Linked DNA regions of Homo sapiens. The protein of the gene in region 1 purifies or fractionates together with the protein of each later gene. This does not show direct contact. Each region holds a gene or a part of one and is shown on either strand. Other genes may lie near its edges. The genes, in order: PTPN4 and MPP7.

What was found.
Region 2: the proteins of PTPN4 (region 1) and MPP7 purify together in Homo sapiens (affinity purification with mass spectrometry; 2 studies listed by BioGRID and IntAct, with this or other methods). This does not show direct contact.

The regions. Positions count from the first base shown.
Region 1 is NC_000002.12:119,759,640-119,776,276, forward strand, and holds the start of PTPN4 (tyrosine-protein phosphatase non-receptor type 4), read left to right. Parts: upstream 1-282; 5' UTR 283-745; intron 746-16,637. UniProt on the Homo sapiens protein: Phosphatase that plays a role in immunity, learning, synaptic plasticity or cell homeostasis. Regulates neuronal cell homeostasis by protecting neurons against apoptosis.
Region 2 is NC_000010.11:28,114,665-28,131,301, reverse strand, and holds part of MPP7 (MAGUK p55 subfamily member 7), read left to right. Parts: intron 1-6,210; coding exon 6,211-6,292; intron 6,293-7,185; coding exon 7,186-7,271; intron 7,272-10,633; coding exon 10,634-10,708; intron 10,709-10,911; coding exon 10,912-11,108; intron 11,109-11,586; coding exon 11,587-11,651; intron 11,652-12,240; coding exon of another isoform or gene 12,241-12,245; exon of another isoform or gene 12,246-12,443; intron 12,444-16,637. UniProt on the Homo sapiens protein: Acts as an important adapter that promotes epithelial cell polarity and tight junction formation via its interaction with DLG1. Involved in the assembly of protein complexes at sites of cell-cell contact.

The DNA.
Region 1 (16,637 bases):
CCCTCTGCGCTCCGACTGGTGCGACTTCTCCCTGCGCTAGCGAGGCAGGGTTTTGGCCTCGCCTCTCGCGAGATCGCCTCCTGTTGCTGCCGCCGCCGCTCCTGGCCACTGACTGGCGGCGCCTGCGCAGCCGCCATGTTCGGTTGCTATGCTGCGGCCTAGGAGAGGGGGTGTGCTTGAGGGAGGAGGAAGAGATAGAGGAGGAGGAGGGGGAGGAAGAGGAGGTGGAGAAGGAGGGGGGTGACTGAGCTCCTCTTGCACTCTCACACACAAACGCTGCCCAGGATTACCCGCCAGCTCACGCCGCGCAGTGCGCTTTTCCGCTCCTCGCGCCCCACCACCAACATTGTTCTCTCAGGACTCCTGGGTCCCAGGGGCCGGAATTGGGCCTGAGCGGGAGAGGAAAGAGACTTGGCTTTGGCCGCGGGGTCGGAGGATTGGGGCCAGGCCCCCTCCCCCACGCACTTTTGGGGGTGTGGATTATCTCATCCCTGCAGGGAGGTAGGAGAGGTCGCCGGCTGCCCGCCTCCCTGCCACCTCCCCAGCGGCGCCGGCCCGCGGCTGCCCAGCAGCATGAGGTGGTGCTGGCGGCTCCGGGTCGTGGCGCGACCGCTGCGGCGGCGGCTGCTCGGGGGGCGCTGAGGTAGCCCCCCGGAGCGGCACGGAGGACGCGCTTCTCCTCTGCGCGCCGGGGCCTCGAGGCTTTTTTTCTCCAGCCGAGAGGACGCGGCTGTGATATACGAAGGTAAGAGGTTCTCCGGTCCCCGCCGGCCTCTCGGCCCTGCACGTTGAACGGGAGGCTCTTACCTGCATGTGTGGCTCCTGGGAGGTGAGCCAGGTGGGGCAAGCCGGAGGTACGAGGATGATTTGAAAGGAAGGAAAAAAGGACAAAAACAAACAAACAAACAAACAAAAAAACGCTTTCTTTCCTTTCTTCCTGGGACCTCTGCTTTTGCGGGGGTTATAGTTGGAATCTCTGTTATGGGTCAGCGAAGGGCCAAGGGATGGAATAGGTGCGGAGATGGAATGTTCCCAGTACCTAAACTCTAGGTAAAGCTTTGGAATCTTGAGTTTTCCATTGCTGGTAGAATTCCTTTTTTTTTTTTTTTTTTTTTTGGCTCATATGAGCGCTTCTTGCACGCTGCATGAGCCAACTATTCCTACCATTGAAGTTTTAAGCCTGTTATGATTCTACCAGTATATACCTGTATTTGGGAATCTGTAGTTGAGCCAAAAAAAAAAAAAAAAAAAAAGTTGAGATGTGGGTAAACAGTGATGCATTTCGCAGGGTTTCCATAAAATGGAACAGCTTACAGTTGCACAGGTGATGTGTGGATGTTTCTGCAAAACTTAGGGTGGAAGATTTTATGTCTGGGCTTGCATCATGTAGTGACATCAGTATGTACAAGGACGATTTGTAGGATTTTTCAAAACGCCTGTTCTAGGATAACTTGTTATGCATCTGCAATATGCCAGCTGCTTTTCGAATAAGAGGTTTCAGTAATACTAAGTTTCTGTGTCCAGATCTTGGGCCCAGTTGAAACAGTACAGCTGATTGGTCACATTTAAAACATATTTATGGAGAAAGATAAAAGGCCAATGTGTCCGACTTGCAAAAGACAATTAGAGTAGAAAGAAGACTGGAACAGTAAAAGCCAGGGCATTTTTAAATCTTGGTTTTCTGAACTTTAACGTGCCAGAGGAAAAAAATTTTTTTTCAATTTTAAGGGGGAAGGAGATGGCCTTAAAATAAAGGATTGTTCAGAGCCTAAACTGTGCTTAATGGAATAGAGCTAGGTATATCATCTAAATCTTGAATTTGACTAATATAAATTCAGCTTTCTTTTAAAGAAAAAACTCGTAAGCAGAAGTTTGTGTATTCTACAGAACCTCTTCACTAGCTCGTAAGTGTGATCATTTTGTGGACATCACTGTTTTTTTGTTAGAATAAATTTATGCTCCAATTACCACAAAAGCAATTTTTATGTCTCTTCGCATTTTTTATGGTACACATATCTTTGTTACATTTTGCATTGAAACACGCACGGTCCCATAGTATCATAATCTTCAGTGATTTATAAGAGAAACAGTCTATTTTGTACATGGGAATGTTTGTCATGTTGCCAGTCTGTTTTAAAAATTTGGCAAGAGGTTTTTAAAATCCAAGGAGGCACCACTATTTTGTAGTTTTTAAAAATATTAATTGAGTAGGTCCATGTTTATTAAGTTAGAAAATCACGAGTTCCTCAAAAGTAGTAATAGACGAGGATGTGATTTTTCTTACTGCCCATTTTCTAACATCTTAGCTTCAGAGCTGTAGGTATTGAATTGAGTCAAACTTGTGTTTTTTTCTTATGTTCTAATTAAATATCTTTTAAAATGTCCCTAGTAACATTGTTACTTTAAATTTATAACACCCAATTTCTAATTTAGGCTAGGCATAAAACCAGCATTGATTGAACGTACTTGCTAAAAATACTTTCTGGGTCGGATGTACTTAGAATGCAGCCTCAGGAAATTTCATTTGAACTATTCTGTGACCAGTGTACACTTCATTATTGTTGAAGGACTTTTAAAAAAAGTATAGATCTCTCATACTCGATTTAATCAGTTTGAGCATAGATGCCTAACTTTAAAAAAAAAGTATAATAAAGTGGGATAGTAATACAATTTACGTGAGATGGTAATAAAAACTTTTCAGCTTTTTTTTTTAACTTGTATGACTTCGTTAGGTTGTTATTAAACTGTGATTTGTATTTTTAAAATAGTTTTGTCTGTTAAACATAATTGAGGTGTACAGTACAGTATCCATTGTTATCTGTTTAGTATTTATTTATGACTTACAAACTCTAAAAGCGGGATCAGTGATCATGGTTTTTAGTAAGTTGTCTTTAAGGAGCAAAGTAAGAGACTAGCAGAAAATTGCAAGGAGGTTTGTTATTGAGAGTACTTCTGCCCCCCGCTTGAGAGTTAATATGGCCACTTTTAAACAAGAAAAGTTTTCCAGAAACGTGGAAATCTTGTTTGGTGTATGTTTAGGGGCAAATGTTTTAAAGTTTTGCCTAAATTCTTAGTTAGAATGCAAAATTGATCAACTCCCTAGGAATGGTTATTGTGGCTAAATATGAATTGTTGCTCCTATGTAAAATTTAGTTATTGGTAGAAGTTTACTAACTGAGTTGAATTTTGTTGTTTTCCTGGGTTATTGCATGTTATGAAGTTTTTTATGTACTATAATCCAGATTTGTTAAATTTGCCAGTTTACTAGAATAAGCTGTGAAGCCTTGAAGTTTGGCTTAGCATTCTGAAAATCCTTTTTATTGTTTGCCAGGAAAGCACTGTAGGAAGGAGGTGTTATCTCTTCATTTAATATTTAATGAGTAGTATAGATGATGAGATAGGATATAATGTAGAAATACCGTAGAATCTTCTTTATTGATATGAAAGTACCATTGTCTAGGAACAGCATAATTTCTTATCTTTTGCATGAATGGGGAAAAAGAGGAGGGGAAATTTATTAGACTCTTTCATTTCATTAGAGATATCTTCCCTCACATTCATTCTTCATTTCATTATTCTTAAGTAGAAACTTTGGAAGAGAGATGCAAGTATTTGAATTAATTAGTAAGAACAAAATGAAAATTACATCGTATAGACTATCATGAGGAAAATATCAATTTGGGTTGGTTATTGTGTTTGTATTTTTTAACAAGGAGGTTATATAGAGTAGTAGAAAGAAAAAAGGACCCAGAGGGGAAGAGTGTTAATATTTATTGTCTGTTAAGTGTCAGATCCTGTATAAGGGGCTTTTCATGTTGTCCCACTCACCAAGTATGCTTTATGAGGTAGGTATTATTAATCCCCTGTCCTCTCCCTGCCAAATAGAAGCTAAGGGAAATGAAATAACTTGTCTAGGCTCATACTTCTAGTAAGTGGAATTCTCTAAAACTTATTCTTTAGATCGGTTCTGTCCAATTAAACTTTCTGCAATGATGGAAATATTCTTTTTTCCTTCAACTTTATTGAAGTATAATTGACAAATATCATAGAAATATTTTTTGCACTGTTAGTTATGGTAGCCATTAATCATGTGTGGCTATGGAGCACTTAAAATGTGACGAGTGTGTCTGAGAAACTCAATTTAAAATTGTATTTAATTTAAATCAATTTAAATTTATAGCCAGATGTGGCTAGTAGCTATAGTATTGGAGAGCATAGCTTTAGGTCTGACTGCTTAGAAAATCTGAGTTGTAGTATTTAATCTTCCACTGGTTTATGCATGGCATTGGGCAAGTTGTTTAGTTCTGGGCTTCAGTCTAATCTGGTGTGAAAATGAAGGGGTCGCCACTAAGAGATTATCTCCAAGGTTCCTTCTTGCCTGAAGTTCTGTGACTGTTATTAAAACATACAGTAGCATTCAATATTCACAAGCATTATGTCTGAAAGGATCCCCTCCCCAATATGCTCACCCATTACCTAAAGATTTCTGTTTAGTCAGTTTCTCTTTTTGAGAAGCGTATGTATAAAGCACACATAAAGGATAGTGGATTATTCCCCACCTCCCCAACTGTTCGGCAAAAACATTGTGTAACTCAAGGCAGTACTTTATGATGGAACAAAGTTTGAATCTTTAAAGGCCATATTTTAACATGCCACCTTCCCGTTTAAAAATATATAGGAGTTCCCCGGTGCTTATCAAATTAATCCCAAATTTACCTGCTTGACCTTGAAGACTTTCTACCAACTTCATCTCATTAACCTTGTTTCTCATTCGTGCTTAAAAAGAAAATAGTCTTGTTTTTTCCTTTGTCCTCGTTTCCATAATTTAAACATCTCTGTCTCCAATTCATGTGCCTCCTCTTTAAACCTTTTTCAAAATTCACCTGTTTCTGGAAGAATGCTGCTTAATCCACTCACAAGGATCAGTTAATGAATCCTGGTAATAAGTACCCTAAGGTTAATATATGCTTGTTTAGATATAGTTTAATATCTTCTTAAGCTTTTTTTTTTTCTTAAGTTTTTATGTTACCTACTCTGTTTCCTTAATTTTCTTAGGTTAAAAAAATTAAAATAGGAATAGCGTCTTTTGTATTGTCTTATGAATTTAGTTCATTTTTCAACAATGCTACTTTTAAAAGTTGCTAATTTTTAAAAAGGATAAATACTGTAACAACGTTTACCCTTGATCACCACCATAATAGCTATTTTTTGTTTCTTTCCAGGTAATTGTTCATATTTAAAAAATAAAGTTGTGTGGTAGAGAGAATTTTGAGAGGAATATAATGGGAACATTGTATGGTGGAGGCTGTGCAATGTAGGGGAAAGATCACAGACTTTGGAGTCAAATCTGGTGTGGAATCTAGCGTCAAAAACCTCGGGCAAACTGTCTGATTTCTGAGTCAGGAGTCAAATCTGGTGTGGAATCTAGCGTCAAAAGCCTTGGGCAAAGTGTCTCATTTCTGAGTCAGGTGGTCTTGAATTGTGGGGATTAAGATACTATATGTAAGGCATCTAGCGCTGTGCTTTAAATACAAGAGATGATCAGTCAGTGATAGTTGGTATTATTTTTTCATTTTTCTATTCCCATCTTCATGAATATTATTTATTTATTTTAGCTACCCAAAGCCACCAAGGTCAATGAATATAATTTAAGTGATTAGTTAAACATTCAGGTGATATACCATAACTGATTTAGACATTTACATTTTGTTAAGCGGTTTTTTGTTTATTTCCTCAGTTTAAAACCCTAGGACTGGGATAATGGTCAAGTGTCATGAATATTTCTGTGCCAGATCTCTCTCTTACAGAAGTACCTACAGTGGTTGTTCTTGTTTTGGGAAGAAAAAAATGCTAATTTTATAATTGTATTTCATTGTTTTAATTAATGTAATTTGAAAATTTATTTGGTGATGATGTAATGAACATTCCTTTATATGTTAAGCAAACATTTGAAATGCCCATTGTAGTGGGAGCAGTGGTATAAAGGTAAATAAGACATGATTCTTGTCCTTGAGCTCAAATTCTAGGGTGGTAACACATGTCAACAAACAATTAACAATTCATAGTGACAGTGTAATAAGATCTGGGGAAAAGAAGTGGCATTTGAATATGGTCTTGGAGGATCATTTGGAATTGATCTGGGTAGAGAGAACAGCATATAGAAAAAGTCAAAGTATGAAAGAATGTGTGGTGTGTTTGGAGAAATGTAAGTTGTCTTGTTGGATATGTCTGTCTCTGTCTGGGTGGGTGTGGTTGTCTGTTCCTGTGTGTGAATCTGTGTGTGTGTGTGTGTGTGCGCGCGCGCATGTGCGTTGATTGCAGTGGGAAATGAAGTCTTGTGAGGGTCCTTGTGTTTGGGCAATGAGTGGGATCATTTTAAGACCTTTAAAATAGAGCTTCCCAACTGGTGTGCCATGAATGGTTTACCAGTGTTTCGGAGAGCAAGATACCCTTGTTTAATGGGACCTGGGCATATCAGATCCCCCTCCCCACCCTGCCCCAGGATGGTTTCTTTTGGCTTTGAATAGCATTTGTGGCTTATCCCAACGTGCTAAGAAATTATTATTTTCTTTGTTGCCAAGTTGGGAAAAGGATTGGGAAAACCACTGTTTTAGAGACTGTAAGTATTAGAAAGTTTATGGTTCCTACTCACCCTTGGCATCCACTATGGAATCAGAAATAAATATCAAATCCTAAAGTAAGCTTAAGGTAAACTTAAGAATTCTTAAGTCACCTTCCTCTTTCTCTCTCTTTTTCCCTCCCTTTACCCGCTGCCTCCCCCATTTCACTGGTGTATGCGCATGTGCGCGCGTGTGTGTGTGTGTGTGTGTGTGTGTGTGTGTGTCTGTGTGTGTGTGTGTGTGTGTGTGTGAAATATCTCTTTGGTGCCCTTGCGTTACTGGTGCCCTAAACATGCATTTAGTCTGCCTCTTGGGAAATCAGCATTAACATTCAGGAACAATTTAGAGGTATTTAAATAAGGGATGATAAGATTAGATGCAGGTTTTGAAAGGTAACTCCTGACTTCTAGATAATGATGCAAAGTTACAAGGATAATGCAAGGATGAGGTTAGAAATGGAGCAGAGAGACCAGATGCTGTTGCAGTGGTCCAGGGGAGGGATGATAGGAACCAGAAATAGGGCAATATAGATATGAGATTAGAACTGAAAACTGAGTAGTTTCACTAGACCTGAGAGTCCATTTGGACATGGGGGGAAAGAGTTGAAGATGATGCTAGGATTTCTTCTTTGGCAGCTTCCCTTCTTTAGCAAGGGAAGGCCAGATTATTTTTATTGAGCACTTCCAGTGAGCCAGGTATTTTGCTAGACAGCGAAGTTGTCACGAGTTCTCATTTAACATTTTGAAATAATTTCAAACCTAATGAGAAATCTCAAGAAAAGTACAACAAAGAGCTCCTGAATCGCCTTAAACTAATTTTTAACATTGTACTAGCTATGTACCGTGTGTATACACAGCTCAAGATGAGCCTGGAACACCTCGTGCTTGGCTCAGTAAGGCCTTTTCCAGATGCCCCAAGTGGTCACCTTGGAATTGTGTTTAGCCCTTTCCCTTTTTCTACTGTATCTAATTGGATCCTCAAATTTCAGTGAAACAACCTCATCATCTCTCATTTCTGGTCCTACATTTTAATCCTTATTTCTCCATTTCAGGGGAATGCACCATTTCTAATTTCATTTGGCTTTTTTCCTGAATTATTTGAGAGCAAGTTGCAGACATGATCCCTATCACTACTAAATATTTTAGTGTGTATTTAGCAAAACAGGACAATCTCCTACATAACCGCCAAATCAGGAAATCAACGTTGATATAACACTACCTTCAGGTCGAACCTAGATGCCATTCAAATTTTTCCAACTATCCCAGTAGTATCTCTCTTTTCTTTTTGGTCCAGCATCCAATTCAGGTTCACACATTGCATTTAATTGTCACATCTTTTAGTTTCCATCAGTTTGGAATGATTCCTCAATATTTCCCTGTCCTTTATGACCTTGACAGTTTTAATGAGCAGAGTCCTTTTTTTCTGTTACATGTTTTCCTCAACTTAAGTTCATCCAGTGGTTCCTCATGTGCAGACCGAGTGCATTGTTGGCAGGAATGCCATAGAAATAATGTCGTGATATTCTTAGTACATCACTAAGAGACGTGCTGTATAGTCCTGCTACTAGCGATGTTTAACTTTGAACACCTGTTAAATTCAAGTCTGCTGGGTTTCTCTACTGTGAAGTTATCGTTTTTTTCCTTTTGTAATTGGGAATTCTTATGTGAGAAGATATCTGGGAGTGTGTCAATAGAGCTGAAGGCTGTAACCACGAGCCTTCAGGTCTGATGATTGCTACCTGAATCAGCCACAACTGTGAAAGTTGTCACCTACATTTATTAGTTCATATTCTACTGAAAGAAGATTTTCTCCTTCTTCTCCATACATTTATTTATTCATTCATTTATATCAATATATACTCCTGGATTTGTTTCTGTTTAGTGGTTTATATTAGTTACTGTCATTTTAAAATTTCATTTTGTTGGTCAAATTGTCCCAAATTTGGCCTTTAAGTTGGCTCCTCTATCTCCTTGACCTGTCCCCCTCCTTGGTGTATTTCCTTACTTTCTGGCCTAACAAGATGTTCCAGATGATCTTAATACTCTCCTATCCCAGCTCTGAAATCATTTATTTTTCCAAGGAATCCTGATTTTATTTTACTTTTTTAAGTAGAGATGCTATTTAGGAACTGAGATCCGAGTGTTCAGTGTGTTCATTTCTGCTGGCATGTCATCACTTTTAGGGGGATAGAGCTAGGAAATACATATATGTATACACACATCTGAATCTGTTTCTATGCCTATGTACAGGTATTTTATAAGTTCACACTGATACAACCAATTCCAATCTAACATCTCAGGATTCGTCTAGCCTTTTCCCTTTCTGTATTTGTAAATCTCTTCTCCAGCAGTGATAAATTGGTTCCTATTATCTCCTCAGTGTATTTACTTATTTGCTCAATCCCCTTGTATGTGCCAGTCTTCCGACCCCGCATTAGTTGTCTCCTTTCTCCTTGCTTGCCGCCTCTGAGGCCTGTGGCATGGGGTCCTCAGAGCTTGCTGTCAGGTCCATGTAGGAAAGAGAACTTCTCATTTAATCTTTTTCCCCTCATTTAATCAGGACAGAAATTTGTTAGAAAGGTGCTATTCCCAGTTTTAAAAGGAGAACAGAGCTGAAATTCAAAAAGGTCTGTGTCTTTAGGCATGTTACTGTGTAAATAGCTGAGTAAATATTTTGCATTCAGATTCGTCTGATACTGAAGCATCTTTTCTCTCCTGTACTGCATAGCCTCTGAGTATCTGTGGAATCCAAAGTGGCAGGATTTAAGGTTGTATAGATGGTAGCTGAAGCAATGGGTGGGACTGTCACTGCTTATGAAGTATATATAAAGTTAGGAAGAGGCACACTGACAGAGCTCCTAACTACCATCACTGAAAGATTAAGGGCTCTCCGAAATCAAGAAGCCAGTGAAGAAGACTGAAAGAAAGGTTGTGAGAGAGGAGTGTGGTTGTGTGTTAGATGATGGTGAAGTAAGGAATTTCATGAAGCTGCCATGTTGCTGAGAGAAAAAGAGAAGACCAAGAGGCTTTGAATTTGACTGTTGGAAAGTTATTGATAATCTCAGCTAGTTGGTTTTCCAGTGTGTTCAGGCGAGCTGCCTGTATCAGAATTATGGAGATACTAATGAAAAATATGAACTCCCCAGGTCTCATCTCAGACCTTATAGATTCTTAAAAGGGGGAGTGGGGAGCCAGGAAGTGGTAGCCTGGGAAAATCTGCTGAAATGCTAAGGTTCTTCTGAGGTGTACTAGTTTGAGGTTTGTTGCTTTAGCAGAAGAGTTATAGTGGAAGAGTGTAATAAACTAAATTGAGGAAACCAAGTGTACAATGAATATAGATGAGACAGCTCTTCGAGAAGTTTGCCATAGAGGTAAAAGATCTCAGGTCATGGAAGAATAGGGGACAGCATCAAGAAAAATACCTTTGCGTTTCAAGGGTTACATACACCTTAACATTTGTTGGGATTAAGAGAAGGAAACTGTAATGGTTATTTTAAAGTTGGGTAAGCAAAACTAATTAGCAACACCTACTATCAAAAAAATGCCCTGAGTGAACTTTGATATGTATCTGGGATAGCTGCCTGCTCCCATTTTAAATGCCATCTTTTGGTAGGTCTTTGGAGTAATCCAAGGGTCATTGTTTATTTTGTTTTTAGTTAAATTTGTATCTTGTGTTTTTGTTATACAGTTGTGTAAAGAGCTTCTCTTTGCTCATTTTTATACAAACACGAATTCTAAGTATATTCTTGTATATAGACGAGTCACTAGCAATACAATTAAAAATTACGTCCAAAATTGGAGGTGACTTTAGAGGGAAATCCAATCCAGGGCTAATTTAATGTATTCTTTGAGCACCAGCTAGGTACTAGGCACTGTGCTTGGCTGTGGGGATACAGAATTGAATAAGACATGCTCTTTATCATCAAGATTATTGTTCTTTCTTCAGAGGAACTTGAAATCTAGTGTATAGCTAGAAATGGTACAGATAAGTCATAGATAACTATGTTAGTCTACAGTAAAATAAGTACAGATAAGTCAATGTTTAATTAATACAGCAGTGTATATTACCATAATTCTCAGACTTGTCATTTTAAAATTGTATTTAAATTGTATTTTCGTATTTGAATTGGCAATATGGCTACATGGTTCAAGTTTCAAAATAATATAAAAAGGCATATAATGAGAAGTCTTGATACCACTCCTTCTCTTTCCTGTTCTGTATAGGTAACTACTTTTATTTTTTGTATATTCTATGGTATTTATGCAAATAGAAACACATATAAAGATTACTGTTTTCCCCCTACCTTTTTTATGTAGAAGGTATTTACTATATTAATGCTTTGTACCATAATTTTTAAATTTAAAATATACCTTGGAGATCATTTGACTTCAGCATATAAAAAGCTGTCCCTTTCTTCTTCTTTTTAAAAAATATAGTAGTATGTTCTATTGTATAGATATACTATTAAGCTAACTAATTCTAATTATTTAAACTTTAAGTTTTAGACCCTTTTACTTGTGTAACCCATTTCCTTTCACCTCTTTCTGTATGAACTAGTGCTCCCTGAAGCATTTTACATTAATGACCTGCCTGACTTTTCTGTATCTAAAGGGTCTAACTTTTTTTTTTTTTTTTTTTGAGACGGAGTCTCGCTCTGTCGCTCAGGCTGGAGTGCAGTGGCGCAGTCTCTGCTCACTGCAACCGCTGGCTCCTGGGTTCAAGCGATTCTCCTGCCTCAGCCTCCCGAGTGGCTGGGACTACAGGCTTTTAAAAATCTTGTCAGCTTCTGCTTTTACTCAGTAGAAATCAGTTACCATGTAACAAGTCTGATTACCTTGAGACTCCCATGCTGTGAGGAAGCCCAAACTCTCACAGGAGAGACCAGAAGGCCATGTGGATGAGTACTTCAGTGAGGACACATGAAAGTGATGCCTTCTTGGACTTTCCATCCCAGCCCAGCCATCAACTGAATGTAGATGAGTGAATGATCCCAAATGATGCCAGATGACATCCAGTGCAGCAGAAGAGCTGCCTAATCTAGCTTTTACCCAATTCCTGGCCAGGGAATTGTGAGACATATAAATCCTTATTGTCTGAAAATAAATAAATAAATAAAAGTAGGTTTATTTGAGTGCAGATCTGTATCTGTTCTGCTCTGTCCTGGTTTTCTGTGTTAACAATGTCCTATTTTTAAATTCCTGTACTCCAATCTTGTAGCTGGAGCTCTCTGCTATCTACTGTAAGCATTGCCTGCTGCCATGTTTCCTTACTGTGTTTTTCCGTGATTGCTGGGATACCACCTGCTTATCTGACCTCTACAATGCTAAAGACCTGCTTGCCTGGATCACTGCTTATTGTCTGGTACTGTAAGCTCTGGATACTATTTTCTAACTGCCTGTCTCTATTGCCTCTCATCATCATTAGCGAGTTTCCCTCTTCTCCCCTAATTTTCCCTATCACAGCCCTATCAGCCCTTGAGTTTTAGTTTGTCAATGTGAAACTTGGCAAAACTTCTGAAATTATTTGGGATGATTTAAAATCTTCTTGATGTTAGTTGTTATAAGTCCATTATGCCTTGTCTGGACTCTTGTAGTAGTCTTTTTAAGTGCAGTTTGCTATAGTTTTGCCCTTTATAATCTCCTTTACACTGTAGCCAGAGTGATCTGACATTCATATCTGATCAGAATTCTTTTGTTATCTCTCCATCTCTCTATAAAATAAAATGAAGGAGTTTTCCAAGGGGATTAAAGTTATTTGGGAAATATCAGTTTTTAAGATAATATTATTTTTGTGTGTTTCTTTTTTAGATACTTGTTCATGAAAGCAAAATATCATTACAAATGCCAAGGACTTCCAAATTGTTTCATTTGCATTGAAATAAGGGAAATCTTTCTAATTTATCTTACTGTTTCCAGCCTAGCACAAATTGCAGTCAGTTATAGTGGCTTACTACAAGAAGCTGCTAGGGAAAATGGAATGTCTTCTTTGGGAAGGGATCGTGATTTGAAAAAGTTCTCTTAGGTGATTCTGATACTGTGACTCATTTTGTATCTGGCTATTTTTATGGCTTTTGATCTGTGTTATCATAATTGTTTATGAAAAGAATTTCGTAACCAACAGTTTGTTATATGCAATTCTGAAATTCCCACATCCCTAAAAAGCCCAAAAGTTTTGTTAACTAATTTGGCAACCAAACTTGACTTATACTGAGGTGAGACTACTTAGTCTCATTTATTCCACTTACAGTGTACATTCTTCAGATTCTCTAAAGAAATTTTATTTTATTTTTATTTTTTGAGGCGGACTTTTGCTCTGTTGCCCAGGCTGGAGTGCAGTGCCATGATTTTGGCTCACTGCAACCTTTGCCTTCTGGGTTCCAGTGATTCTCCTGCCTCAGCCTTCCAAGTAGCTGGGATTACAGGCTCACGCCACCACACCCAGCTAATTTTTTATATTTTTGGTAGAGACGGGGTTTCACTGTGTTGGCCAGGCTGGTCTTGAACTCCTGACCTCAAGTGATCCACCTGCCTCGGCCTCCCAAAGAGCTGGGATTACAGGCGTGAGCCACCGTGCCTGGCCCTTAAAGAAATTTTAAATAGCAATATGGTTGAATACAGGGTGCTGCCCTAGAATCAAGAATGTTACTTAATGTAAGGTATCTGTGCCGTATCACCTGTCTGTGTCCCAGATACTCTGAAATTCAAAACACTTCTGAAAGTGTTTTGAAGCTAGAGATCTTAGATATGAGATTGTAGAACTGAACCACCAACTTCCTAGCAATGGAAAGAAGTGGTACTTTGTTTTCTTTTGTATTTCTTTTTGGTGGTAATGTAGTTGAACATTTTTTCATGTTTATTAATTTCATTTCTTATATTCTTCAAATTTTTTGTTCATTTATCTGCTAGGGTGAATAGTTTTTCTTACTAATTTATAATATCGTAGATACTAATTGGTTTTCTGTTCATTCTAAGTTTTTGTATCTAGCATATTGGTGGAAAATGCTACAAGTTGAAAACGCACATACAGCTGATGTTTGAACAACATGGATTTGAACTGTGTGGGTCCACTTATACGTGGATTTTTTTTCAATAAATATATCGGAAAAATTTTTGGAGGTTTGGGACGATTTGAAAAAAACACAGATGAACTATATAGCCTAAAAATATCAAGACTTTTTTTCAATTAAGAAAAAAACTGGCTGGGCGCGGTGGCTCATGCCTGTAATCCCAGCTCTTTGGGAGGTCAAGGCAGGTGGATCACGAGGTCAGGAGTTCAAGACCAGCCTGACCTACATGGTGAAACCCTGCATCTACTAAAAATACAAAAATTTGCTGGGCGTGGTGGCGCACGCCTGTAATCCTAACTACTCAGGAGACTGAGGCAGGAGAATCACTTGAACCCAGGAGGCAGAGGTTGCAGTGAGCCGAGATCGCACCACTGCACTCCAGCCTGGGTGACAGAGCAAGACTCTGTCTCAAAAAAAAAAAAAAAAACTAAAAAGGAAAAATTAGATGTCATGAATACATAAAATATATATAGATACTAGTCTACTTTATCATTTACTACCATAAAATATACACAAATCTATTATAAAATGTTAAAATTTAACGAAACTCACACAGACCATACATGGTATCATTTGCAGTTGAGAGAAATGTGAAAAAACATAATGATGCAGTATTAAATCAACTGCACAAAATTAACCATCTTACATAATGTATTACTGTAATAATGTAATAACCACCTCTATTTCTAGTGAGTTCAGGTGTTGGAAGTATCCATTTAAAATGCCATGTGATGCTAATCATCTCCACATGAGTAGTTTGTCTCTCCAGTTAATTGCCTGTCACAATAAAAAGTGATCTTTTGTGGTTCTTGAGTATTTTTTAGCTATGTTTCATCATGTTTAGTGCAAATCATAAACCTTGAATAACACCATGGAACCCATATGAAATGCAGCTAGTGATGCTGGAAGTGCTCCCAAGGAGAGAAATGTCACAACATTACAAGAAAAAGTTGAATGGCTTGATATGTACCATAGATTGAGGTCTGCAGCTTTGGTTGCTTGCCATTTCAAGAGAAATGAATCCAGGATAAAGACCATTTTTTTGTTTTGTTTTTGTTTTGTTTTTAAAAGAAATCTGTGAAGCTGTTGCTACAGCTACACCAGCAGGTGCAAAAATCTTGCACTTTTTGTGAAATACCTTTTTATCTCACATTGAAAATGCAGCTTTTATATTAGTGCAGGATTGCTATTAGAAAGGCACACGTATAGACTCTAATATGATTTGAGTAAAAGCAAAGTCATTATATGATGACTTAAAGCAAAAGAAAGGTGAAGGATCTAAAGCTGGAGAATTTAACCCAATCCAAGGATGGTTTGATAGTTTTAGAGTTTGGCTTAAAAAATGTCAGGATAACAGCAGCTTCTGCCAACCAAGAGGCAACAGATGAGTTCCTAGGCACCCTTAAGAAAATCACTGAGGGCCAGGCATGGTGGCTTATGCCTATAATCCCAGCACTTTGGGAGGCCGAGGCGGGCAGATCACGAGGTCGGGAGTTCGAGACCAGTCTGACCAACAAGGTGAAACCCCGTCTACTAAAAATACAAAAATTAGGCATGGTGGCATGTGCCTTTAATCCCAGCTACTCAGGAGGCTGAGGCAGGAGTCGCATGAACCTGGGAGGTGGTGGTTGCAGTGAGCCAATATCGCGCCACTGCACTCCAGCCTGAGCAACACAGCGAGACTGCTAAAAAAAAAATAAAAAGAAAATCATTGAGGAGAAAAGATATCTGCCTAACAGGTTTTTAATGCAGATGAAGGTGCCCTATTCTGAAAAAAAAAAAAAAAAAAAAAAAAAAAAAGCCACAAAGGACATTTATTAGTAAGAGAGAAGTGAGCATCAAGATTTAAGGGAGGAAAAGATAGGCTAACTCCACTGTTTTGTGCAAATGCAGTCCGGTTTATGATCAGGACTGCCCTTATCTATAAAGCTGCTAACCCCCGAGCCTTGATGGGATAAGGTAAATACCAGCTGCCAGTCTATTGGTCATATAACAAGAAGGCCTGGACAATAACTCTTTTTCTGGATTGGTTTCATTTGTGCTTTGTCCCTGAAGTCAGGAACTACCTTGCCAGTAAGGGACTGCCTTTTAAAGTTCTTTTGATGTTGGACAATGCCGCTGGCCACCCGGAACCCTGTGAGTTTAACCTTATGTTGAAGTGGTCTGCGCGCTCTTCCAAACACAACATTTCTAATTCAGACTCCAGATTGATTAGTCCTAAGGACCTTTAGGGCTCATTACACATGATACTCTATGGAAAGGATTGTCAGCATTATGGAAGAGAACCCTGATAGAACATCATGGAAGTCTGGAGGATTACAGTATTGAAGATGCCATTGTTGTTATAGAAAAAGCTGTGAAAGCCATCAGGCCTGAAACTGTAAATACCTGCTACGGAAGACTTTGTCCAGATGTTGTGCATGACTTCACAGGATTTACAACAGAGTCAGTCAGGGAACTCATAAAAGAGATTGTGGATATCTATATCTATATCTATATCTATATCTATATCTATATATCTATCTATATACTTTTTAAAGGTTGAGGATGAAGGGTTTCAGGTATACATCTTGAAGAAATTCAAGAGCTAATTAGACACCACACCAGAGGAATAAATGGAAAATAACTTGATGGAGATGAGTGCTTCCAAACCAGTACCAGATGATAAGCAAGAAGATGTGGAAGAAACAGTACCAGAAAATAAATTAACTATAGACAGTCTGGCAGAAGGGTTCCACTTATTCAAGACTGCCTTTAACTTCTTTTACAACATGGACCCTTCTAAAATACGGGCACTGAAACTAAAGCAAATGGTAGAAGAACGATTGGTACCATAATATAAAGATTTATTTATTTATTAATTTTTTTGAGACAGAGTCTCAGTCCGTTGCCCAGGCTGGAGTGCAGTGGTGCAATCTTGGCTCACTGCAAGCTACGCCTCCTGGGTTCAC
Region 2 (16,637 bases), on another chromosome or scaffold:
CATGGTTGATTTGAGATTACATGGTACAACTTAAAAAAATTGCTATTGTCTATGGGAACGCAACTTTAAGTTATTTTATATACTTAATTCAATTGCTTTTTAAATTTAAACTAATTTACAGCAGGTCCAACAAAACTTTTGAGAAGTCTCAGTGAAGTAAACATCTAATTTCTTTGTTAAACATCTTTTGAAGATCTTATTTGGTCAGGAGGCGTGGAACTTAAATTTGTTTAATTTAATTTTATTTTATGTCCAAGTAGCTCTATTTTTAAAAATAAAAAAAGCTTAATATAGAAAAATAGAACCTCTAATGGCAATGAAGAAATTTCCAAAATTATTTGTTAGCTATTCCTTAAATAAAGTATTAAGATTTAAAATGTCATTTTAAATATTGGAATATGAAATCAAATGAATAGAATTACTTGTCTTGAAATTTTTCTCATTCAAATATATAATTAGTGTATTATCTTCGCAATTATTGTTAAGGTAAAGTAAGATTATTGTGTGAACAAATTTAAAGTTTAAAAAATACACTACCCAGAAGAATAGAAAATACTTTCAACAAATTTGTTATTTAACATCAGTCAAATGACATTTGTTAGTTCGGGGAATTGTTGGAGAAGCCACAAGACTGTCAAAGCGCAATGAAAAACACACAGAGAGAAGATTAAGAGTCAAAGATATCTTTAGGAGAATGAGCCCCAGTCGTGAGAATCAGAAGTAGGCAAAGTGCTGGAAGCTAAGCTGAAATAAAATTCTAGCAAGTGGATGGTCAGGAAATGCTTGGCAAGTGATTCATGAGGAAAGGCTGTAACGTTTGGCAACCAAGGGATAGGTTACCAGTGTTATCTAAAAATGCAATTTTGTTTATTGGGATCCATAATGTGGTGACATGAACACTGAGCTTGCACTGGATGACCTAAGTGGGAGTTGGGATCCTGTCACTTTGCCCTGTATCCTATAGAGCAAACCACTCACCATCTCAGCCTCAGGTTCCTTATCAGAAAATCAGGAAATGTACCTCTTTGCAAGTGTTTTTGAACATCAGCTAAGATATAATGTGTTTGGAATGGTTTATGAGTTCTGAAGCATTATGCAAACATTATGTAAATATTAGAATATATTCTATCTAATATTTAAAAGATATTAGAATATATTCCATCTAATATTTAAAAGATATTAGAATTTATATTCTAGTTAATACTTATAAAAGCTAGGTTGCATCTGCTCAAGGAGAGAATGGTTACCTCAGAGAACAGGCTGTGAACACAGGTTATGTGGGTATTAGATAATGGATAGGAAAAAGGGTAATTACTTAAGGGGCAAGATCCCTTGAAAATGAAATTCTGTTTGTTGGTGAGTAGATTTCGATCCTAAATTCTCAGTGTTACTTGCATCGGCTGTCCTCTTGCTTCCTTGAGAACAGTGGTTCTCAGATTTTGGTATTGGAAGAATGACCTGAGATGCTTACTTACAATGCAGATTTCTGAGCTGAATCCCAAGGGATTTATATCAGGAGGGTTTTTTTGGTGCCTGGGAATCTTGATTTTAAAAAGCGTCTCAGATGTTCTTGGTGCAAGTTTTTGGTAGATCACACTTCAAAAACACTTGTTTCAAAGGCTCAATCTGAAATTCACTGTGCCACCTACTTGAGGAGACCTTGCAATACGGCAGTTTATAGGAAATAAATAAAGTAAATTTTTTTTTTTTTTTTGAGACGGAGTCTCACTCTGTTGCCCAGGCTGGAGTGCAGTGGCGTGATCTCGGCTCACTGCAACCTCCGCTTCCTGGATTCAAGCAATTCTATAGGAGATAAATTTTTTGTTTAAGGAAATCATGATAACCCAGTAAGCAGTCCCCTTTTATAAACCATTTTACAGAATTAATAATTAAGAAAAATCTGACCAGAATTTATTTTTTCAATCTAACTTGAAATTCTCCATACTCTGTTTTTAAAACAAAATCACATAGAATAAATTCAAAATAATTATGTAGGAAAATAAGTAATTTTTAAAATATTAGATCCAATTTTAATTTATTTTGTGTTGGCAGACTATGCTATAGGATTGATGACTTTTGTACAGTATCACGTGTAATGTGCTCTGTGTTTTTGAGATTTGATCTTATTTTCATGGAAATATATTGCACTGGGAATACATCAAACAATTGTGGTAAGAGAGGTTTGGAAAACAATATGGAAATAGAAGTCTTCAAGAATGAAGGGTTCAAAGTGAAGATTGATTCAAGTGGTAGTATCATGTAGAAAGTGAGAGATTATTCTTCAAGTCTGTAGTTTACCCTCCAAGCAAAGTAGAATCAGGGGATAGCAAGAAGATTCTATCAGGGCACTTATCTCTGTCTATAATGAGACCCTTATGCGTTGGAGTGCTTTGCATTATCTATACATTCCAAAAGTGATTTTATTCTGCCCATGGCTTTAAAAAGCGTCTATGTGCCAGAGACTCCCAGGGTTATTTCTCTTCCAGTCTTTTCTTCTAATCTTTAAATTCGTATATCCATCTGTCTATTTGTTATCTCCATTTGGAGGTCTAATAGACATCTCAATTTTCACATATCCAAAAATAAACTGCTGATCTTTGTCCCCAAATCTGTTCCACCCTTGTCTTAACCCCTTTTAGTTGATGGCAATTCCATCCTTCCAGCTGCTCAGCCAAAAGAAGTTGAGCCTATCTTTAATCCCTCTCTTTCTTTTGCATTCCATAGGCAATCTGTTGGGAAATCCTTTAGACTCCACCAATAATATAGCCAGATCCCCTTTCATCACCTCTACTCCTGCCAGTCAGATCCATGCCACCATCATCTTTCCCTTGAATTACTGTGCAGAGTGAGCATCCCAAATCTGAAGATCTGAAATCCAAAATGTGCCAAAATCTGAAACATTTTGAGTGCAGACATGAGCTCCAAGGAAATGGTCATTGGAGACTCTTAGATTTCATATTCTTGGATTTGGGATGCTCAACCAATAAGAATGCAAATGTGCCCAAATCTGAAAAGAAAATCTGGAATCTGAAACACTTCTGGTCTAAGCATTTCAGACAAGGGATTAACCTCTCATTAATTTCATTGCTTTAGCCCTTGCCATCCTTCACTCTTAGCACAGTGGGTGGAGTGGTCCTCCTAGGTTGTGCCCCTCCTGCTGTTCACAACCTTGCATGTTCCCTCTTTCATTCAGAGTAAAGCCCAGTGTCCTCACAGTGACTCATAAAGCACATAAGCTGACTCCCTTCTGCCTTTACCTCATCTCCTCTTGCCGCTCCTCTGCTACTGGGCTCCAGCCACACAGGCTGCCTTGCTCGCTCTTGAGCATTTTATTCACAGCCTTCCCCTTGGCACCTTTGCACTGGCTGTGTCTTCTGTTCCTTCCCATTGGCTAACTTCTTCACCTCCGTCCAGTCTTTATTCACTCAGACATCATCTTCTCAGTGAGTCCTGTGTCTTCACATTGTCTTTCCTCCGCCTGCCCTGGCATCCTGGTCTTCTATTTCCTGCCCTACATCCCCTCACACCCCCACAGTGTTTACCACCTGATAGGGTTCGGCTCTGTGTCCTCACCCAAACCTCATCTTGTAGCTCCCATAATAACCACGTGTCGTGGGAGGGACCTGGTGGGAGATAATTGAATCACGGGTCAGGTCTTTCCCATGCTGTTCTTGTGATAGTGAATAAGTCTCACGAGATCTGATGGTTTTAAAAACGGGAGTTTCCCTGCACAAGCTCTCTGTTTGCCTGCTGCCATCCATGTAAAATGTGATTTGCTCCTCCTTGCCTTCCACCATGATTGCGAGGCCTCCCCAGCCACATGGAACTATAAGTCCATTAAACCTTCCTTTCATAAATTGCCCAGTCTCAGGCATGTCTTTATTAGCAGTATGAAAACAGACTAACTCTCTAACATACTGTATAATGTATGTAATTATTCCATCTCTTGTTTATTGTCTTGTCTCCCCCATTGGGATGAGAAAGCAGACATTTTTTTCTTTTTCATCAGTTTATTATAAGCCCTTAGAACGGTGCCTTGCACAGAGTAAGTTCTCAATAAACATTGGTCAACTTCATTGAATACAGAATAAGTCAAAGGAACTAGCATTAAGTATAACAAACAGGTTAGATAGCCCTATACTGAAAAACTGTACAGTCCATAGTACAGAGAGAGATTGGTTCCACTTAACTAATTCTATGTTGCAAACCACGGCTGTATGTTGTGGCGAAAACAATATTATTTTGGGGGTTGATGAGCTCAGCTGGGAGGTTCTCACTTGGAGTTCCTCATACATACAGTCAGATGGTGGTGGCTGGAGTGAACTGAGGGCTCCTTCATTTACACAACTGTTACCTGGGCTTGGAGCTGGAAGGTTGGGGGCTGGCCAAGTGTCTCTTTCTCTAATTGTTACCTTTACTTGGCTAGCTTGGGATTCCTCAGAGCATAGCAGTGGTCATGATTTCTTACATGGCAGTGAGATTCGCATAGAGCAAGTGTTTCAAGAGGCCCAAGTGGCAGCTACAGATCTTCTTATAGCCTTTGAAGCCTCAAAACCATTTTTACCACTTAATGTGGGAATATGGCATGCACATACAAGGAGGGAAGGAATTGGTGATCCCCCTTTTAGAGACAATCTCCCCCAAGAGTAATGAACTCATAGACAGAATGAACTTATGAACGAAAGGTTATGGGAAGATAGAGGTTAAGCAGTATTGGATGATGATTGAGATGAATGATTGTGTCTCTGGTCAGATTACCTTAAACAAGTCCTGATTTTTCCATATACTAGTTATCTGATCTTAGACAAATTACGACCATTTAATATTCAGTTTATCATCCAGAAACTATGGATAAGTAAACTTAGATTACTAGGCTTTTCTGCCGTTGGGCATATTTGGTGGGAAAATTTGAGACATGTCATTAAGGAAAATGAAAGTTGATTTAATCAAACTAATTAGTTATATTGAGAATATTACATTTCCAGTCATTTTGGAAACAAGTTAGAAATTGAAATAAAAGCAGAAAATACTAGTAGTTGGTGAGTCTAAGCTTTATGACCATGAAGTGATGCTCATTCAAGTCTCTGGCCTTGAATACATGCACAGGTGATGAAAAATGCCGTAAAATGCCTGTCACTTAATTCTTTGACTTTTTTACTATTATTGGCTATGTATCTGATAGTTATAGATAAAGGATACTTATTACAGATGGACTTTTACTTTGTTTACATATCTGTTCTTTAATGATATAAATGTGTTTATTGACAAACTGGAGAAAAATTTCACTTCTTTTGGATGAATTCTGCTGCCACTGAAAAGCATACCTTTTTAGCAGTATTATGCAATGTTGGATGGCTTTGCAAAACCAATGCCAGATTCTTAAAAGGAAAGTCATGGAAAGGCTTTCAAAGTAACCACTTGTGCCTGTTGTTCTTACAAGGCAGCAGTTAATTTGCTTCTGAGTATCTGTAAGTGAAGAATTTTTGGCTTCTTTTTGAGACTGTTTCCTAATCTTATGCCAATACTTAGTTCTATTTGTACTAGTTACAATCCTAGTTCACTAAAACCATGGAGTAAGAGCTCTTTCTTCTAATCATTTGTCTTAGACTTAGGCAACAAATATAACTAATTTCTGGGTTTTAACTTTTTTCTTTTTCTTTATAATTATCGCCCAAGTTTTTTTTAATTTTTAAATTTTTATTTTTTTACTATGATAACTGAGGGTGATAGAAGGATCACTGAACTAACTAAAAGTCAAATGATCTGGGTTTTAGTTTTTTAACATATAGAATCTTTTGTCTATTAGTGTAATTGTCACTATTCCACTTTCTTGATGCGGTACTATAAGGATGAAATGAATGAAGAATTGCTTTAAAAGGATAAAAACCAAACAGCATTGAAATACAAGGTATTTTTATAATGGAAAGAAGGTATGTTTATTTTACACAGTTTTGAAGAGGTTGAAGATTTCAAAAATCCTTAAATTGGGCTGAAACCCTTTGATGCTATGTAGATAGAATTTCCTCTATTTAGTCATGAGAATAGACATTCTAAGACAAATGGCATGATGTCTATTTTTCCTGCCTCATTTCTTTTTTTTCGTTTTTGTAGTTGTTTTCTCTTTTTTCAGATGAATGTCCTTATTTCCTCCTTTTCTAACACCTAGTACACACATTTACCCACAAATGCTTTTTGTTTTTGTCTTAAAAGGGAGCTACCATTAAGAAGGATGAACAGACCGGGGCGATCATTGTGGCCAGAATCATGAGAGGAGGAGCTGCAGATAGAAGTGGTGAGACTTTAAATGTTAACCAAGTACAGACTAATCACGTGTTTCGTGTGTAGCATTTCCAGTAGATAACTAAGAGGATAACCATCTTTGGATCTAATACAGCAGAACAAGTAATAAGATATTTTTCTCTGTGTTGAAATGTGAGAGCCTATTTAAATAAATGATAGATAAACATTACTCTATGGTCTTCTTGTACACAAGCATCCAAAGCTATCTTAAAACTTGTGGGCCGGGCGTGGTGGCTCACGCCTGTAATCCCAGCACTTTTGGAGGCCAAGGCGGGTGGATCACGAGGTCAGGAGATCAATACCATCCTGGCTAACACGGTGAAACCCTGTCTCTACTAAAAATACAAAAAAAAAAAAAATTAGTCAAGTGTGGTGGCGGGCACCTGTAGTATCAGCTACTTGCAAGGCTGAGGCAGGAGAATGGTGTGAACCTGGGAGGCGGAGGTTGCGGTGAGCCGAGATTGTGCCACTGCACTCCAGCCTGGGTGACAGAGCGAGACTCCGTCTCAAAAAAAAAAAAAAAAAAAAAAAAAAATCTTGTTTCTTCTGTATTTCTCAATTGAAAAGTACTGCTAAGAGCATGCAGCCTTTAAGATAAATAAAAATTATTTTATTAGTATATTAGTATAAGATATCAGTAATGTGCATTTCTAGACAAAGACCAAGCTCCTGTTACCATTTCTTGGCCAGCATTACTATGTTGTGGTTTTTGAGTCACTGCTATGGAGAGGCATAGAGGCTGAAACCTGAGATGTGTGAAGGTCTCCTTTCCATTCGTTAAGTGTATTAAGGGAACCTAACAATGCTTTACTTATGGAAACAGCTGCAAATTACAGTTTTGGTTGTGGGTAACACTGCTAATTTACCAAATCTCCTATTTCTCAGGTCTTATTCATGTTGGTGATGAACTTAGGGAAGTCAACGGGATACCAGTGGAGGATAAAAGGCCTGAGGAAATAATACAGATTTTGGTAAGCTGTAAATTTCTTTTAAAGGTACAATAAAAATAAAATCGAATCACTGTATTTCAGACTTTTAGACTTGGTTTGACATAGACAGGATTTGTATTAAGCAGTGCAGGGTTCGAACACTTAATCCCTGTGTGTTCTTGGAAAATATCTTAATCTATTCATGCCTCAGTGTTTTCATTTGCAAAATGAGAATAAGAGGTAACTATCCATCTGGAGTGTTTTGAGGATTAAATGAGATAGTATATATAAAGAGTTTTAGGGCCGAGTGTGGTGGCTTATATCTGTAATCCCAGCACTTTGGGAGGCTGAGACAGGTGGATCACCTGAGGTCAGGAGCTTAAGACCAGCCTGGCCAACATGGTGAAACCCGTCTCTACTAAAAATACAAAACAAAATTAGCTGCACGTGGTGGCAGTCACCTGTAGTCCTAGCTACTTGGGAGGCTGAGGCAGGAGAATCGCTTGAACCCAGGAGATGGAGGTTGCAGTGAGTCGAGATCACACCACTGCACTCCAGCCTGGGCGTCATAGCAAGACTTTGTCTCAAAAAAAAAAAAAAAAAAAAAAAAGAATTTAGTACCTGTCCCTGTCCCAAGTCTATACTTAGCAGATGGCATCTACACTGTGGCTGGTGATGCATTTATCTTTGTCTTCCTCCCATTGACACAGTCACATTCCATGCTATAGATCATAGCAATACAAATTAGTCAAACTAATTTAGATGTCTTTTGAAATCTGACACTTGAATAAAATTATTTTATGCCTTGGAAATATTAATTCTAAAGTTCATTTGTAAGATAAAAGGAAGGGAAACTCTCTTTTATATGTGAAAACATACTGGAAACCTATACCAACTAGAAGAGGTTTGAGTGTGTCTCAAAAACAGATCTCTGTATATATGAAAATTTAGTATATGGTTAAGGTGGCATTTTAAATCAGTGGGAAAACAGTGGAACATTTCATAGATGGTATCAGGTTAATGGCGCAGAAAAAATAAGGTCAATCCTTGTTTTACACAATACATAAAAATAAATTCCCAACAAATTAAATAAGTGCAAAAAAAACAAAAATTGCACAATAAAAGGTAATATACAATTTCTATAATTATAAGGTAGAAAAAGACTTTTTAACCTTGATATGAAAGTCAAATAGAAAAATAACAGATGTGTCTACTAGAATTCAAAACTTTCTTTATAGAAAAAAGGTGCCATAAAGAAACATCAAAGACAAATGAGATTGTATGAAAAATATTTTCAGTATATATAATAAAAGGCTAATGTTTCAAAATATATAGAGATGATAAAAATCAATAAGAAAAACATTTACAGAAAAATCAGCAGTGCATATGGACAAATACTTTACAAAAGAAAACATAGATGTCTGGAGACACGAAGGTGATGCCAAGCCCAGGGCAGGCTTGATCCCCTCAAAGCATTTTCAGGATATGAGATTGGAAAGCTTGATAATGCCTAGAGTTGGTCAGGGTATAGGAAAATAGGTATATTTATATGATTTGGGGATGGGATAAATTATTAGTAGAACTTTTTGAGATCTGAAACTATCAAAATTTTAAATGTGCATACCCTTTAGTTGGAAATTAATCCTCAAGCAATAATTTGGTAAATGTGTATAAACAAAATTTTTCAAAAATATTCGGAAACTACCAAGAAAGTTGCGTTGATCAAATAATCATTCATCCATATGCTAGATTATTGTGAGGCAATCACGAGAGATAGACCTATATGGCTCAGCAGTAATAGTAATAACAATTGAGTCCTTATTAAATGACACTGTTGTAAGGACCATAGATCCATTTAAAAAAAAACACACAGACACAAACTAGAAAAATAAGAGGAGATTATAGAAAAGACTTTTGTTTTCTCTCTACCAATGTAATTCAGTATTACAGTATGAGAATTCTTTATAAGATTTGTGAGCGCCTTCTACAATAAGCAATAGCAATGATATTACCATTTTGAAATAAATCAACCCTTTATAAAATTCTATTATTTAAACTATCAGAATCCCATTTTACTTAACTTGCTGTGTTGCACTAGAGCTGCCTTCTTAAGGCTCGGCCCAGAGCTGACTGTGTGATGCACCATTTCCCAACTCAGCTTTCAGCAACTTCATGCTGGTGAATTGAAATTGACTATAGTGAAAGTATTTATACCATGGAAATTGACAGACAGTACACATCAGAGCCTTTTTTTTTTTTTAAATAAATGGAGTCCTGGTTTACCAGTGCACCACAGATAGTGAGACTCAGAGATATGTCTTGCCCTACCCCCCTTCCTTTCATATCTTTCAAATGTGCCAAGTATTTAGTGCTTTTATGGAGCTTACAAATTAGCAGGAGTAACATATCTTATGAAATAATGGCATAAATAATTAAATATGGCTACAATACATGGTAAAAAGAGAGAGACAGAGAATGACATGAGACTATATTTAAAGAGAAATCCTATCTGAGATAACAAAAACTTGTGGGTGCTGGTACTTATTTTAATGAAGTTAGAATAGATACTCAGTCTTTTCATCTTTCAATTAATCTATTACGTTGGATATTTTACTCGCTCACCAGAATACAATAGATATGAATGTTCTTTATTTTTTTTTTCTGATGGGCATTGCCACTAATTGAATCATGTATTTGTAACTGCACTACTGACATTATAGGTGTTTTGTCCCCCAAAACATGGATGCTGATACTTAAATGTAACTGTATGAACCTTGTACATTATTCTTTAAAAAAAAAAAAAAAAGCTTCTTGCTCTGTCACCTAGGCTGGAGTGCAGTGGTGCGATCACAGCTCACCGCAGCCTTGAACTCCTGGGCTCAAGAGGCCTTAGCTTCATCACCACGCTTGGCTAATTTTTAAAATTTTTTTTGTAGAGACAGGGGTTTTGCTATATTGCTGGTCTTGAACTCCTGGGCTTGGGTGATCCTGCCACCTTGCCTCCCAAAACACTGGAATTACAGACACGAGCCACTGCACCCAGACCTTTATACATTATCTGTTCTAGTCATTGAATACTGTGTTTATTTAAGGTGTTGTGCATATTTTGTGTGTTTCTATTTCGAAGAAACTTGGATGGGAATGTATTTACTTGACAGCTTAAAAGTACACAGGAAGTAAAAGTGGATTTAGGAGTTAATGTTTTTTAACTTATTCTACAAACTTCAGAGCTTTCTTTCTCACATTACAGGAATTTCTACAAAAATAGTTTCCTCCGTTTAGTCTATCTAAGAGTAGAAGCCCCAAGCTTGTAAATTTTCAGATGCATTTCACTTTCTACCTATTTTACCTTATTCTTCCTTGGGTCTGGTTTTCTTATAACTCCTTGTTTTATCTGTTACCAGGCTCAGTCTCAGGGAGCAATTACATTTAAGATTATACCCGGCAGCAAAGAGGAGACACCATCAAAAGAAGGCAAGGTAATTATTGCTTAAAAACATTTCTTCGTGCGTGGGAGGGAAGTCATGTTTTTCCATCCAACACATATCCACTTTGTCACAACACATTTCTTTCAATATTCCAGTTTTAAAATTACTATGTTTGGAGTCGGAGTTAGGAGAATATAGGCCATTTCACATTTATTTTTTATCTTTATTCATCTTTAATGAAACTTTTCTTCCAGATGTTTATCAAAGCCCTCTTTGACTATAATCCTAATGAGGATAAGGCAATTCCATGTAAGGAAGCTGGGCTTTCTTTCAAAAAGGGAGATATTCTTCAGATTATGAGCCAAGATGATGCAACTTGGTGGCAAGCGAAACACGAAGCTGATGCCAACCCCAGGGCAGGCTTGATCCCCTCAAAGCATTTCCAGGAAAGGTGAGCTGCTGGTACATAATAATGGCTTTTCTCCAGCTGACCTTTTGTTCTCTGCAAAATATCATTCTGGCATTGATGTGATAAAATATGCTATAAAACCTTGCCTTAGAATTTTTTATCCTGTGGGTTTGGATTTCTGTTTTGTCTAACTAAGTATGATGAATGACCAAAAATAATATGACAGTACTGGGTCATATTAGATTTTTGTTATGAAGCAAATGGAAAATAGCACATTAATATCTTGAAACCATGTTGATATGAAAGGTGGAAAAAAAAAAGACCAGTGGTTTTGGAGGGAGGGAAGATAATTTACAAAAATTTGAAAGTGGGCGATTTGTTTCTTAATTTGAATCTATTGCATTACATTCATTTTTTTCTCTAACCTTTAAGTTTTTTCTTAAGACTAAATATTTTGATATTGTATTCACCTCGGACCTGTGCTGAAAATTGATAGGTATGTTGACCTTCTTTCTCCCAGGAGATTGGCTTTGAGACGACCAGAAATATTGGTTCAGCCCCTGAAAGTTTCCAACAGGAAATCATGTAAGTTTGTTAATAAGAATGCAGAGAAACCAAACCCTGATGTTTATTTTTGACTATTAAAGCAGGTGCTCATGGCAGAACAAAGGGTCCTATTACCCTAGCAATAACTTTGGGATCATCAGTTCTCAGGAACAAACAAATATGAGATTCATATTTGGAATATTAACATGAATCTTTTGAGGAAAGGGGTGGTTGAGGTTGTTAATAATAAATCCATGACTCACTCTTTAAGAAAGTGACTACTACTACTACTGTCTTTGATTTCCAAATATAGTTATTTTATTAAATGTCACCTAAAATACAGCTCTTCCTTCTTCAAAGCCAGGAAGTTTGGGTTAGGTATTTCTTGGTAAAGATTAGGGAGAAAAAAAATCTACCATTTTCTTGGGTACAAAAGCAATTGTGCTCAAGACCAATTGTTCTTAATTCCTTTCTTATCCCCAGATCATAATACTTCTGACCTTTAGCCTATCCCTTTGGAGTTATTACCAGACTAGATTAAAAGAAAATGAGAGAAAGACAAAGGATGGCTACCGTATGACTACTGAAAAACTTAGTGTGCATTTAAATACTTTTTTTTCTCTTTCAGCCTAATCTTCTGTCAGCTTTTCTTTATTTCCCACCACCCAGCTCTTCAAGTCTGCATCCCATAAATTCCCTGTTCCACCTCGCCTAGATGTTTCATGGTTCTAGGTATTTTAAGAGGAAAAAACCAACCCTTTGTTTTTAGCATAGAAACTGTACATTAAACAGCGAAATGACCAAATAAATGGCCCTGGAATTTTACACCAACATCTGTTTTTAGTATTGTTGCATTTTTCACATCTCCTGTGATTTCTGTCAGTTTGCAGAAGCATATAGCCCAGGAATCACATTAGAAGGGAGCCAAACTGTAGTCGAGTATAAATCTCACAAGCAGGCAAATGCTTAAAGTGGAGCACTCATTCAAAAGCCTGCTTGTCCTTGCTACATTAAGTCTAGGCACAAGGAAAAAAACCCTTGTCACAGAATGCTACAAGTCTTCTGACATCAGAAAACTTAAAGCTTTCGTGAGAATATTGCACTGTTCTTAAGCGTGATGACTTTTCACTGGCCAACTCACTAACAGAAAGGAGCTTTGAGGCTCCTTGCCTGACTGGCTCTCAAAGGGATTTTTAAATAGGAGGCTTACACATTTCTAATATATTTGGCATATGTGGGATAAGATAATGTGTCACTTAAAGATGAAATAAATGTAATTATACTCGAATCTGGATCCATACTCAACTCTTTTTCAGTCCTAGGCAACTTAGAAATGTACAGTTTGATATTATTATAAATTTTCATTGATTGAAAATTTTTGATAAGTGTATATGTATTTCTTTAAAAGAACTATACAAAAGGGATATTTTGCTTTTTAATAGCTCTTTCAAACTGGTTTCTATATAGATGCATAGGAAGGTGAGGTGTGTGTGGGGGTATGTGTGTTTGTTTGTGTGTGTATGTAGAAGTATTAATTGTAACGGAGTCCTTTTGTATGTTGATTTGCATGATTTCTTTTTTATGTTAATACTTCAATATTTGGATCTGATAAATATTTATTCTAGCATTTATCTTTACTGAAATGTCCTCATTTGACTAATTTTGTTTTTTTTTGTTTTTGTTTTTGCTTTTTCTGCCTCTTGAATACCATTCAGAAATGTTTGCTGGTCCTCCTCTCTTTCTTTCTCCTCTCTCTCTGTCTCTCTTATTAAACTAGAGTTTGATTCACTGAGAGATGCATTGTTTGTTTTTATATATGTTATTTATTTTCAAATAAATCTGGTCAAAATTATCCTTATTAAATCATAAACATATAACAGATATGGACTTGTTCAGAGAGACAATATATTTCTGTGACAAATAGGCAGCTAATGTCTTTATTCTCAAAGAATTGAAATTCTACTTGAAATTTCCTTGAATATTGTCTCACATAAAGTTAAAAGTTATGCATAAATCATTGTATTGATTCTGAACATTTTAAATGGCATTTAAAAACACTTTAACCTATGTTTTGATGATGATTCTTTACCAAACTAAAACTTGTAAAGGCCATCTGATCCACTACTTTCTGGATTTCAATATTTGGTACTTAGGGTTTTGGAATAGGAAACTTACGTTATCATGCCCTTTGTTGAATTATAGGAAAATGCCATGAAGAAAAACAGCAAGTTGGTATAAAATCTTTTGTTTTTATGATTTTGAATATTAATAGAATAGGGTTGTAAAAAAAGTTTCTGATTCAATTAAAATTTATAAAGGAAGAATAATTCTATCATGTCAATGTTTATAAATTTATTTTAAAAATACAGTGATAAAAACTTTATCCACTAATTTTTACAAGTGTACTTAACATCTAGGAGGAAATTGCAAATATAGGATTTGAAATAATGAATTTAGTCACATAATACCATTTACGAAATTAGCCAGTTAACTTTTTATACAAAGTGATTGCTCGTATTACTCTTTTCTAAATCTTTATTTTGCTTTTTATTTCATTTGTAGTGTATCACCATAACTTGAGTTTGCATGGGGGAAAAGTTCATGGAAGATGGTTCTGGAACTATAGGGTTTCAGTTAATATCAACATAGAAATAAATAAGGAAGGGCACATCCCAATCTTACTGTCTTTGCATTTTTGCACTTATATTTGTGCTAGAGCTCTAGTTCTTGGCTCCAAGGTAAGTAAAATCAGGAGCCATGATAATAACAACCTCTTTAGGCTTTGAAACTAGCCTCCTTATGCAAAATTCATAAGTGCAAGTCATATTCATCTTTGTTGCTTGGTTATGTCCTCCCCTAAAGAATCTTTGTGTATCTAATACAAACCCAGAAGAATAAAAAGGCTTTTCAAACAAAAAAATAATTTACCTCTTAAAAAATTCCTGAAAACTAAAACATGACCTCTTAAACCTAAAATATTTCTAAGTCTTAAGTAGCTGGATATAAGGACTTGTCTCCTCCCCCTATTTTTTGGAAGAATTGCTTACCGAACAAAGATATTTGTAATGGAAATTTGTTTCCCTCCCTCTCCATCATCTAATGATAGGTTCCCACATAATGGATTTATATTAGTAATGCAGAGAGAAAAGCAGGCCTCAAAGTCTGATAGATTTTCTTTTATATGACCAGCTTTTAGATTATTATATACAAGATGTAGCTTAAGTGTTCTGGAAATGAGTAAAAGTGAATCTTATGTCTCAGATAGAATGTAGGAGTACTTTTGCATGACAGGAACTTGGCAGCTTGCATTTCTTGTGTCAATATAATTTAAAGTATTCTAATTTTCTGCCTAAAACTTATTTTTATAGTTTGGTTGCATGTACTACCTAACCGTTAAGAAAGAAATAGGAATTCATTTGTGGTATTGTTTGTTGCTTTTCTATTGAAATCTAAATACAAGTTAAGAATTGTCTTCCTAATGACATCAAATTAATTTAAGTTCAGTAGGATGTGATTTATATTAAATATTTAAATCCAGTATATATTGTCTTCAGAAAGGAGTAAGAAAAAGCTGTTATTCAGGTAGTGTATTTTACAACAGAATATTCAAGTGTGAGTTTTTATAGTGTTGTTTCCTTTTTTTAGTTATCAAAATATAAGAACCTAAAAGTTTCTAATATTGCTGACTGAATAACCTTAATTCAAAATTTTTGTTTTACACAATAACTCTTAAAAAATTCTTGCAGTCAAAGAAACAAGAATGTACAATTTTTCAACCATTTAAAGATTAGAAAGGAAAACACAAAATATTTTATTGTAGAATTTGTTTTAACTAGTCATGATTATTATTATGCAGGTAAAAAGAAAACATTTAACTGAAGCCAAAGGGTATCCATTTAAGCAAGGTGTAACTTAGTTCATTCAAAGGCAAACATTTGTCAGTTGATAATCACAATAGGCAAAAAAGAATTTAAGCATTGAGTAAAATAACGAATTCACTGCACACGGTACCGGTATTTTGGAATGTCTTAACACTTAGGAATAATATATCACAGGATGCTACAAGTCATTGTAATAAAGCTTTTCAAGTTGAGTAAGCTTCTTCTTCCTGGATTCTTAAGTAATTTTATTTGTTGTTTTCATACATAAAGTTAATTCAGAAACAAACACATTGCTTATGTTGTTACATGAAGTTTGTATGTCTAAAACATTGTCAAACATTTTCTTAATATTGGTGGGGTCTTGTATAAACAGAAACACGTGGGGTTTTAAAAAATACCTAACATTGGCCGGGCACAGCGGCTCACGCCTGTAATCACAGCACTTTGGGAGGCCGAGGCAGGCAGATCACAAGGTCAGGAGTTCGAAACCAGCCTAACCAACATAGTGAAACCCCGTCTCTACTAAAAATACAAAAAAATTAGCCAGGCGTGGTGGCACATGCCTGTAATCCCAGCTACTCGGGAGGCTGAGGCAGGAGAATCGCTTGAACCTGGGAGGCAGAGGTTGCAGTGAGCCGAGATTGTGCCATTGCACTCCAGCCTGGGCAATAAGAGTAAAACTCCATCTCAAAAAAAAACAAAAACAAAAAACAAAACAAACAAACAAACAAACAAAAAACCTAACGTATTTTTCCCCTAATACTAATACTATCTGGAAGATGCCAGAGTTCAGAGTTTGGGTGGAAAGAGGTGTAGATGAACTAAGTTGTAAATTTCATATCTGATCACTTAAATCGAAGATGGTTGAGGTGAAGAACCTTCTAACTGTTACTGCTCACACTCAGTCTCAGTGAACTGTGTTCTCCTGGGATTCCCCAAGATGTTGCTTCTCAAACACTATCAGAGTAGATGCTTCTAGTCTTTCCATTGGAAGCGTTCTCAGCCCTATTGTCTCTTGTATTTTGTCCTGGGGACTCAATGCCATGCAGGTTGGAAAGCATTGGTTAACTCTTAGGGGTCTGATCTGTGGTTGCGGATTATTGCAGACTTTTAGGACGGATTGCGGTAGGGGGTGGGGAATTTA